2 linked regions of the Homo sapiens genome follow. The protein of the gene in region 1 purifies or fractionates together with the protein of each later gene. This does not show direct contact. Each region holds a gene or a part of one and is shown in the gene's direction. Other genes may lie near its edges.

Region 1 (4,242 bases):
AAATTTGAGAGCTACTTGCATTTTCAAGGTACAAATCCATGTGATAAAACCTCTTAAGCTTGTTTTCCATTTATGACTTCTCTGTGTTACTGTCTCCTTGAATTATGAAAACTCTTTTCTGACACTTGTATGTCTTTTTAAACTTAAGATACCTTTTCTGTATTAAAACAGAATTCTTCATGAATATTTCAGTATGACCTAGTACCTAGAATGTTAAGTAATAGAATCTCTCTGGGTTTTCTTTGCCCTAGTTCAGATCCTTTAAAGTGAGTGAACAAGATTCTGTACTCCTTTCTGAGTACTTTGTATTTCTAGAGTGCAGAATGGAACTTTTTTTGTTTTATAACAGCTTCATTGAGACATACTGTACAGTTCACCCGTTTAAAGTGTACAGTTCTGTGGTTTTTGGTATATTCACAGAGTTGTGCAGCTGTCACCACAGTCAATTTTAGAACATTTTCATCCCCCCCAAAAAGAAACCCCATACCCCTTAGAAGTCCTCCCGTTTCATGTAAATGGAATCATACACTATGTGGTCTTTTGTGTCTTGCCCTTATTTAGCATATTTTCAAGGTTTATATGTGTGGTAGTATTGTATAGTACTTCATTTTTTTTTTTTAATGGTCAAATAATATTCCATTGTTTGGATATGCCGTATTTTGTTTATCCATTCATCAGTTGATGAACATTTGGGTGTTTTTCCTTTTTGGCTATTATGAATAATGCTGTGAACATACGTTTTCATTTCTCCTGAGTATTTACCTAGGAATGTAATCGATGGGTTGTATGGTAACTCTATATTTAACTATTGGAGGAATGGCCAGACTTCTCCAAAGCAGCTGCACCATTTTACGGTATTCACCAAGAGTATATGAAGGTTCTAAATTCTCCACATTCTTGCCAACACTTGTTACTCTCTGACTTTTTGATTCTAGTCATCTGTGTTTCCCTAATGGCTAATGATGTTGAGCATCTTTTCATGTGGTTGGTGAACATTTGTATGTGTAATCTTTGGAGAAATGTCCATTCAAATGCTCTGCCCGTTTTTTAATGGGTTGTCTTTTTATTGGTGTTATAAAAGTTGTTCATGTATTCTAGATTCAAGTGCCTTATCAGCTGTATGATTTGCAAAAATTTTCTTGGATTCTGACATGTCCTTTCATTTTCTTGATGGTGCCCCTTTTTAGGAACAAAGATTTTAAATTTTGATGATTTCCAATTTATGAATAGTGGGGTCTTACTAGTTAGAAATTAGACCTTAAACCACACCCTCCTCAATATTTTGGTTATATAAGTTGAAACCCAAATGTGAGAGGACTGGGGAAAGGTTTGAATTAATATATTTTAAGGTATGCTATAGATGAAAAAGGATTCATCAGGGAACATGCCATTCACCTGTTCAAATCCTCTGGTGACCTCACCTTTACCCACAAAATAAAGTTCAGACTCCTTAATGAGGTGTGGAGTAAGGTGGGCTCTGATTTCAGCCTGCTTTATTTCTCACTATTCCCCTTCCAATGTCTTCATCTCTAGTGCCACTCCCTGAAACATCCCAGCTTTCAAATCTTGTGATGAATTTATTACTTCATCGCCTTTCTACTTCTAGAATCCCACTTGTCCTTTGGGACATGGGTCATGAGGTTTTTCCTCCATGAAAACTTCCTCATCTCACAGGCAGACATTTGTCCCTGCCCTCATGTATTGTACATTCATCAGGACTGTTTGCTACAAAGAACTGGACCTGAATTTGAGCTAATAGTCTGAAAGGTGCCTTTCCATACAAGGCAGAATGCAATAGAGCAATTCACATGGAAGGCAGACTGAGATTCTCTTGTTCATGGCTTGGTCATTAGTGCCTACTGGATATTCGCTGAATGAATGATTGTTTATTGAAGTTAACTGGAAAGATCCTGAGGTCAGTGGGTTTCTCTGATTATCATGAATGTCTTTATTGCCTATGTTAAAATAACATGAATGGGGTAACTCCCTTTTGCCCTTCTGGCATCCAAGTCCAGCTCTTACCAAAAAGTGCTCAAATGTAAAACTGAGTGTTTAAAACATTTCCCCAATGGCAGAACATTCTCGTCCAGGTTCTTTCCCCCGATGAACAGTAATGACTGGCGCACAGTCTCCTCAGTAGGGTAGATGGCCAGCGAACACGATTTAGTCACACCAAATGCATACAGGCCGACCCTGATAGTATTTGGTCAGTTAGTACTGGAACTACCCCTGTCACACTCATGAGAATGGTTGTAAATTGGATTTTAAGGGTGTGTACTTTCTTTTCATTCTTTTTTTTTTTTTTTAATGTTTTGTAGAGATGGGGTCTCACTATGTTGTATAGGCTGGTCTTGAACTCCTGGGCTCAAGCAAGTCTCCTACCTTAGCCTCCGAAAGTGCTAGGATTATAGGCGTGATGCACCATGCCCAGCCTCTTCATTCTTTTGTTCATGCTCTCCTCTCTTGGGGTGTCTGACTCAAATTAGTATTCTTTAGTTATATTTTGTGTTCTTATGTTCATTTTTTTTTTTTTTGAGACAGAGTCTCACTCTGTCGCCCAGGCTAGAGTGCTGGAGTGCAGTGGCACGATCTCAGCTCACTGCAAGCTCTGCCTCCCAGGTTCACGCCGTTCTCCCGCCTCAGCCTCCCAAGTAGCTGGGACTACAGGCGCCCGCCACTACACCCGGCTAATTTTTTGGTATTTTTTAGTAGAGATGGGATTTCACTGTGTTAGCCAGGATGATCTCGATCTCCTGACCTCATAATCCGCCCGCCTCGGCCTCCCAGATTATGTTTATTTTTAAAATACTTTAATTAAAAATATTTCATGCCGGGCGTGGTGGCTCACACCTGTAATCCCAGCACTTTGGGAAGCTGAGGCGGGCAGATCACGAGGTCAGGGGTTTGAGACCAGCCTGGCCAACACGGCCAACCTGTCTCTGCTAAAAATACAAAAATTAGCCGGGTGTGGTGGCACGCGCCTGTAGTCCCAGCTACTCAGGAGGCTGAAGCAGGGGAATTGCTTGAAACCTGGGAGGCAGAGGCTGCAGGGAGCCTAGACTGCGCCATCACACTCCAGCCTGGGCGACAGAGTTGCACTCCAGCCTGGGCGGCAGAGAAAGAATCCGTCTCAAAAAAATAAATAAATAAATAAATAAATTCACTTAGCACCTTTCTGAGAATTAGGAGAAACCAGTTGGCCATTTCGGGATACCTTTTCTTTGTGTGTTCGTTAAAGCTTGGATTGTGGCAAGGTAGTACAGAAGAGAAAGAAAAATGTCAACTTTTTTGTCTAGTTAGGGACAGTGAGCTATGGGTACCTTCTGTAGTTCTCGTTCTAAGAGAGTTTTGTATTTAGGGGAACTGAGGCCGTGAGGGTGCAGGCCTTTAGGGCCAGATAGAGCTGGGCTTCACTCTTGGCTCCGCTTCTTGCTAGCTGTGACTTTGCCAGCTCCCTCACCTCCCTGAGCTTCACTTTCCTCCTCTGTAGTGTGGAGATGCAAAAGGCTTACCTTGCAGGGTCATTGGCAAGATTAAGCAAGGAAAATTATATGAAGTGCCTAATACAGAGTAGGTACTGAATACATTCCTGTTCCCTCTCTTCTCTCTTAAATGTCTGTTAATGAATGGAACTGCAGAGAAGCAAATAGAGTAAGTTTAATACATTTTACATCTGACATTAAGCTATTAAGGGTATGGATTCCTACTCCCACCTGAGGATTTTAGACTTTGAATCAAAGTTGAGTCACTGAAGAGGGCAAAAAATGTCTAATTTTAGGATGGGAAGGCGGTCTTAAAAACACCTCCAGTGTTTTTGCATCTGTCTGAATTGGAAATGTCTATTCAGACAGTCTTCTCTATTCAGGTCTGTGTATTCAGTCTCTCTGTCTGTGTGTCTGTCTGTCCATTTTAAGGAAAGTTCCTGGCAAAAGATGGATTTTTTTAGGATTTGAAGGAGATTGCACTGCAGTGCTTGAGATAACTCTTCTGGTTACAGTGTGATAAAGTGTAACATCCTGTGTGGGAAAAGAGCCTCTATAGTTTTATGGTATGTTAAATTAGGCCTGTCATTTGGATCTTACATTAATAACAAAAATACAGTTCCTCCCGTTTGCTGCAGTAATGAGTAATTAATATAATGCAAAGGTCAGAGTGAGAGAGACTATAAATGGGAGTAGGAAGGCCTATACATTGTATGTGGAAGGCAGTTATATTTTTTCCCCTTTGGTCAGGCAATGATCT
Region 2 (3,940 bases), on another chromosome or scaffold:
TGGGAAGTGGAGATATTTAGTCAGGAAAAGAGAAGTGTTAAAAAAGTAAGTTAGTGGTGTTTGGGTATTTCAAGGGCTTTCATAGGACAGAAATGAAGGAACTAATATTTATGGAATGCTTTCTCTGTGACAAGAACATTGTATATATATTTATCCTTGTAAATAATCCTTTATCATTTATCCTTATAAATCTTTTTGTCCTTTATTGTAGTCTTTTTTGATTGACTTATCTTTAGGTATATTTGACACCCTAATATTTCACTTCTCTTAATTTGTACGTTTATCTGTATGGAACAGCTTCTCTCCCACCCCTCAGGATCAGAGCTGACCTCATTTTTTTTTTTTTTCCCTTGTAGCAGAGGTAATCCCTGACATAACACAAATGCTTTATATGTGTATTAATTCATTATTTCTATTAAATGTAGATATTTTTGTTTCTGTTTTTTGTGGAGGAAGAAAACTAAAGCTGGAAGGCACTTTATTCATAATTAAATGGTTAGCTGTGATACCAGGCAGCTGAGGTCTGTCTGACTTTGCTCTTTCTTGGGATCACACTGGTTTTTGTAACTCCACGGTACACAGAATCAATAAGTGATAATTATGGATGAATATTTTAACTTGGATAGCAAAGAACTTTTTAATGTTTAATGCAATCCATAAATTTAATGAACTGCCTTTTAAATTCTCTGCTGCTAAAAATATTTAAGGAGTCACTTAAACCTGTCATGAACTTTATAGAAGAATTCAGTCTTGAGTGGGAGGCCCTTTTTTAGTTCTTAGAATATGAATAAAATGAGGAGTTGGGAAAATTCATCTTTCACTTGGGAGTTTTTGCTTCTCATCCTATGTTAAATATAATAAACTTATGTTTAACCATATTGTCAGGTAAAGCTTACTTTAAAACACTGGCATCATGAGCTTTGTTTCATTCCTCTGGAGTCGTAATTTGGTTTTTCAGTGATTTCCTTAGTGGCCTCTGAGTGCTCTTAATTTCATTATTTAATCTCTGTTCTGTTTTGTTGATGTTCAGTAGTCAATAACATTTCTGTAACATGATGTGCTGATACATATCTATTCTAGTTTGGGACCGTAACTGTTTACAAAAGACTTGTAAAAGTGATCAGAGATAATTCTTGGTTGTAGATGATAGTTTTGAACTTACTTATAGAGGAAGGATATCTCATAATGAAGTCTAAACAGTATATATATATATAACTAGTATTAGGATGGAATTTTTCATTTTAAGATTGTCAAAAAATAATGTATAGTTCTGTTAGCCTATAGTGATTATGTGGTGATTGTGTTAATATGATCTTGTGTTCAGATAGGAGGGTGACCTAGATAGCTTTCTAGGTCCCTTTTAGCTATTACAGTCCAGGTAGGTAAAATAAGTCCAGTATAAGTTTAGTTGTTTTTAATTACTAGTCATATACTTTGTTTGAGGCTTGGATTGTAAGAAATTTAGTTTTTTAAAAAATGAACTATGTTAATTTCTTAATTCTCACACTTAAAAAAGAATTGTGTTGTATTGTCTGTACCAAGGTTTTTCATAGAAAAATTTTATCAACGTTGCTCCATAATTAAATCATAGTAGTATTTGGAGGTGTGCGATGGCGTTTTCTGTATGTCATATAGTCCTAAACACATGTTACCTTAAAAAAATTTGAAGGTAGGCCTGGCACAGTGGCTCATGCCTATAATCCCAGCACTTTGGCAGGCTGAGGCAGGTGAATCACAAGGTCAGGAGTTCAAGATCAGCCTGGCTGAGATGGTGAAACCCCGTCTCTACTGAAAATACAAAAATTAGCCGGGTGTGGTGGTGGGCACCTGTAATCCCAGCTACTCCGGAGGCTGAGGCAGAGAATTGCTTGAACCCAAGAGGCGGAGATTGCGGTGAGCCGAGATCGTGCCACTGCATTCCAGCCTGGGTGACAGAAAGAAACTCTGTCTCAAAGAAAAAAAGAAAAAGAAGGTAATCTTTTAGTAATAGTTGTTTATAGCCATATATGTATTGAATAACTGGAGGTAGGGTGGTTGTGTACTTTCTGCCTTACATTGCAGTTTGTAACAGGCCAGCCCACGTGGACATAGTTTAAGTTCTGGCAAGTTAGTTCTATACAATTTTTTTTTTTTTTTTTTTTGAGATGGAGTCTTGCTCTGTCGCTCAGTCTGGAGTACAGTGGCATGATCTCGGCTCATTGCAAGCTCCGCCTCCCGGGTTCACGCCATTCTCCTGCCTCAGCCTCCTGAGTAGCTGGGACTACAGGCGCCCGCCACCGCACCTGGCTAAGTTTTTGTATTTTTTAGTAGAGACGGGGTTTCCCCGTGTTAGCCAGGAAGGTCTCGATCTCCTGACCTCGTGATCTGCCCGCCTCGGCCTCCCAAAGTGCTGGGATTACAGACAGTTAGTTCTGTACTGTTTAATGCAATCTTCCACATTTTTAGCTTTAGGACAGAAATAGCCTTTATAAAATATGTAAATCTTACAAATCATGCTCCTAAAAGCAAATGTAAACCTCTAAGTTTGTCTTAATAAAATGTAGGGAGTGAGCTATTTTATTGCATAATACAAAATTAATTTTATGTATTTTCTTTCCACAGATACTACATTTAAAATTGAATAAAGTACTCCAGGGAACTAGTTTTTTTTTTTTCGATTAACTCTTTGTTTTTTTGTTTTTTTTTTTTGTTTTTTTGCCTTTCTTCTTTCTTTGTGCTCAAGGCTGTTCTTGCCTTAGCTGCATCTTGGACCTCAAGACAAGTAGGAGAACGGACGTTGACCGGTACGGTAATAGACAGTGGAGATGGTGTCACTCATGTCATTCCTGTGGTAAGGCTATTTTACAGTTACTGAACAGAACATGAAATAACACATCTGGCAAAGTTAAATTATACGAATTAATGTTACTTTTAAAAAACTTTAAATGCTGCACTATAATTTGGCCATTTGTCCAGTTATAGCTATGTTTTGCTCACCGTTTAAAACTTTTATAAACAATTCAAAATGTTTCTTTTACTGTAGGTTTGTACTGCAATTAAGAAAATTACAAATTGCAATATCTGGAATGGAAGTATATTAATGGCTTTCATTCTGTTTTCCAGTTGGATGTGTGTTAGCCATTTGATGACCTCTTTTATTCATAATTAACAGATTTCAGACTGGTGTACAGGGTAACTGTATAACAGTTAGTTTTAAGTACCTGAACTTTAGTAGATGCTTTATGGTTTGTACTTAATAAAGCATATTAAGAAAAATGCATCAAATTAGATTGTCAGAAATAACATTTTTCTTCCAAGGCCGTTGTGCTTCAGTTCTTAATGATACATCAAGTTTTAAAAAAATTATGCCTAATGAATTCAAAATGACTACTAGAATTCATACTGTTTATTATTAAATGGGTATATAGAGAAAGGTTTATCTTTTAAAGTAATTTTTATATTATAATGAATATCACTTAAGGATTTACATTATTTTGAACTTTTTTTTTTTTTTATTCTCACTCCAGTGTTTAATGCATCAGGCAATGTCTGTTAAAGATTACATCCTCAGGGTGACTACCTTTGGATTAGACTCCTGGTCCTCCACCACTTTCACCCTCATGATATGTCATAATGGTTTTAGTAATAACTGCCATTGTTTAACGATAGCTTAAGATAAAATTCATATACCATACAATTCACTTCTTTAGAGTGTACAGTTCATTGATTTTTAGTATATTCACAAAGTCCATCCGTCCCCACAATTTTAGAACATTTTCATCACCCTACAAAGGAACCCTGTAACTATTAACAGTCACCACCCATTTCCCCTTGATTCCTTCAGCCCCTGGCAACCACGAATCTACTTTTTGTCTGTGTTAGATTTGCCTGTCCTGGCCATTTTATGTAAATGGAGTTAAACACTGTGGTCTTTTGTAACTGGGTGCTTTCACTTAGCCGA

What was found.
Region 2: the proteins of CORO1C (region 1) and ACTR3 fractionate together in Homo sapiens (co-fractionation; one large-scale study listed by BioGRID). This does not show direct contact.

Annotation. Positions count from the first base shown.
Region 1 is NC_000012.12:108,724,719-108,728,960, reverse strand, and holds part of CORO1C (coronin-1C), read left to right. Parts: intron 1-4,242. UniProt on the Homo sapiens protein: Plays a role in directed cell migration by regulating the activation and subcellular location of RAC1. Increases the presence of activated RAC1 at the leading edge of migrating cells.
Region 2 is NC_000002.12:113,931,557-113,935,496, forward strand, and holds part of ACTR3 (actin-related protein 3), read left to right. Parts: intron 1-2,722; coding exon 2,723-2,830; intron 2,831-3,940. UniProt on the Homo sapiens protein: ATP-binding component of the Arp2/3 complex, a multiprotein complex that mediates actin polymerization upon stimulation by nucleation-promoting factor (NPF).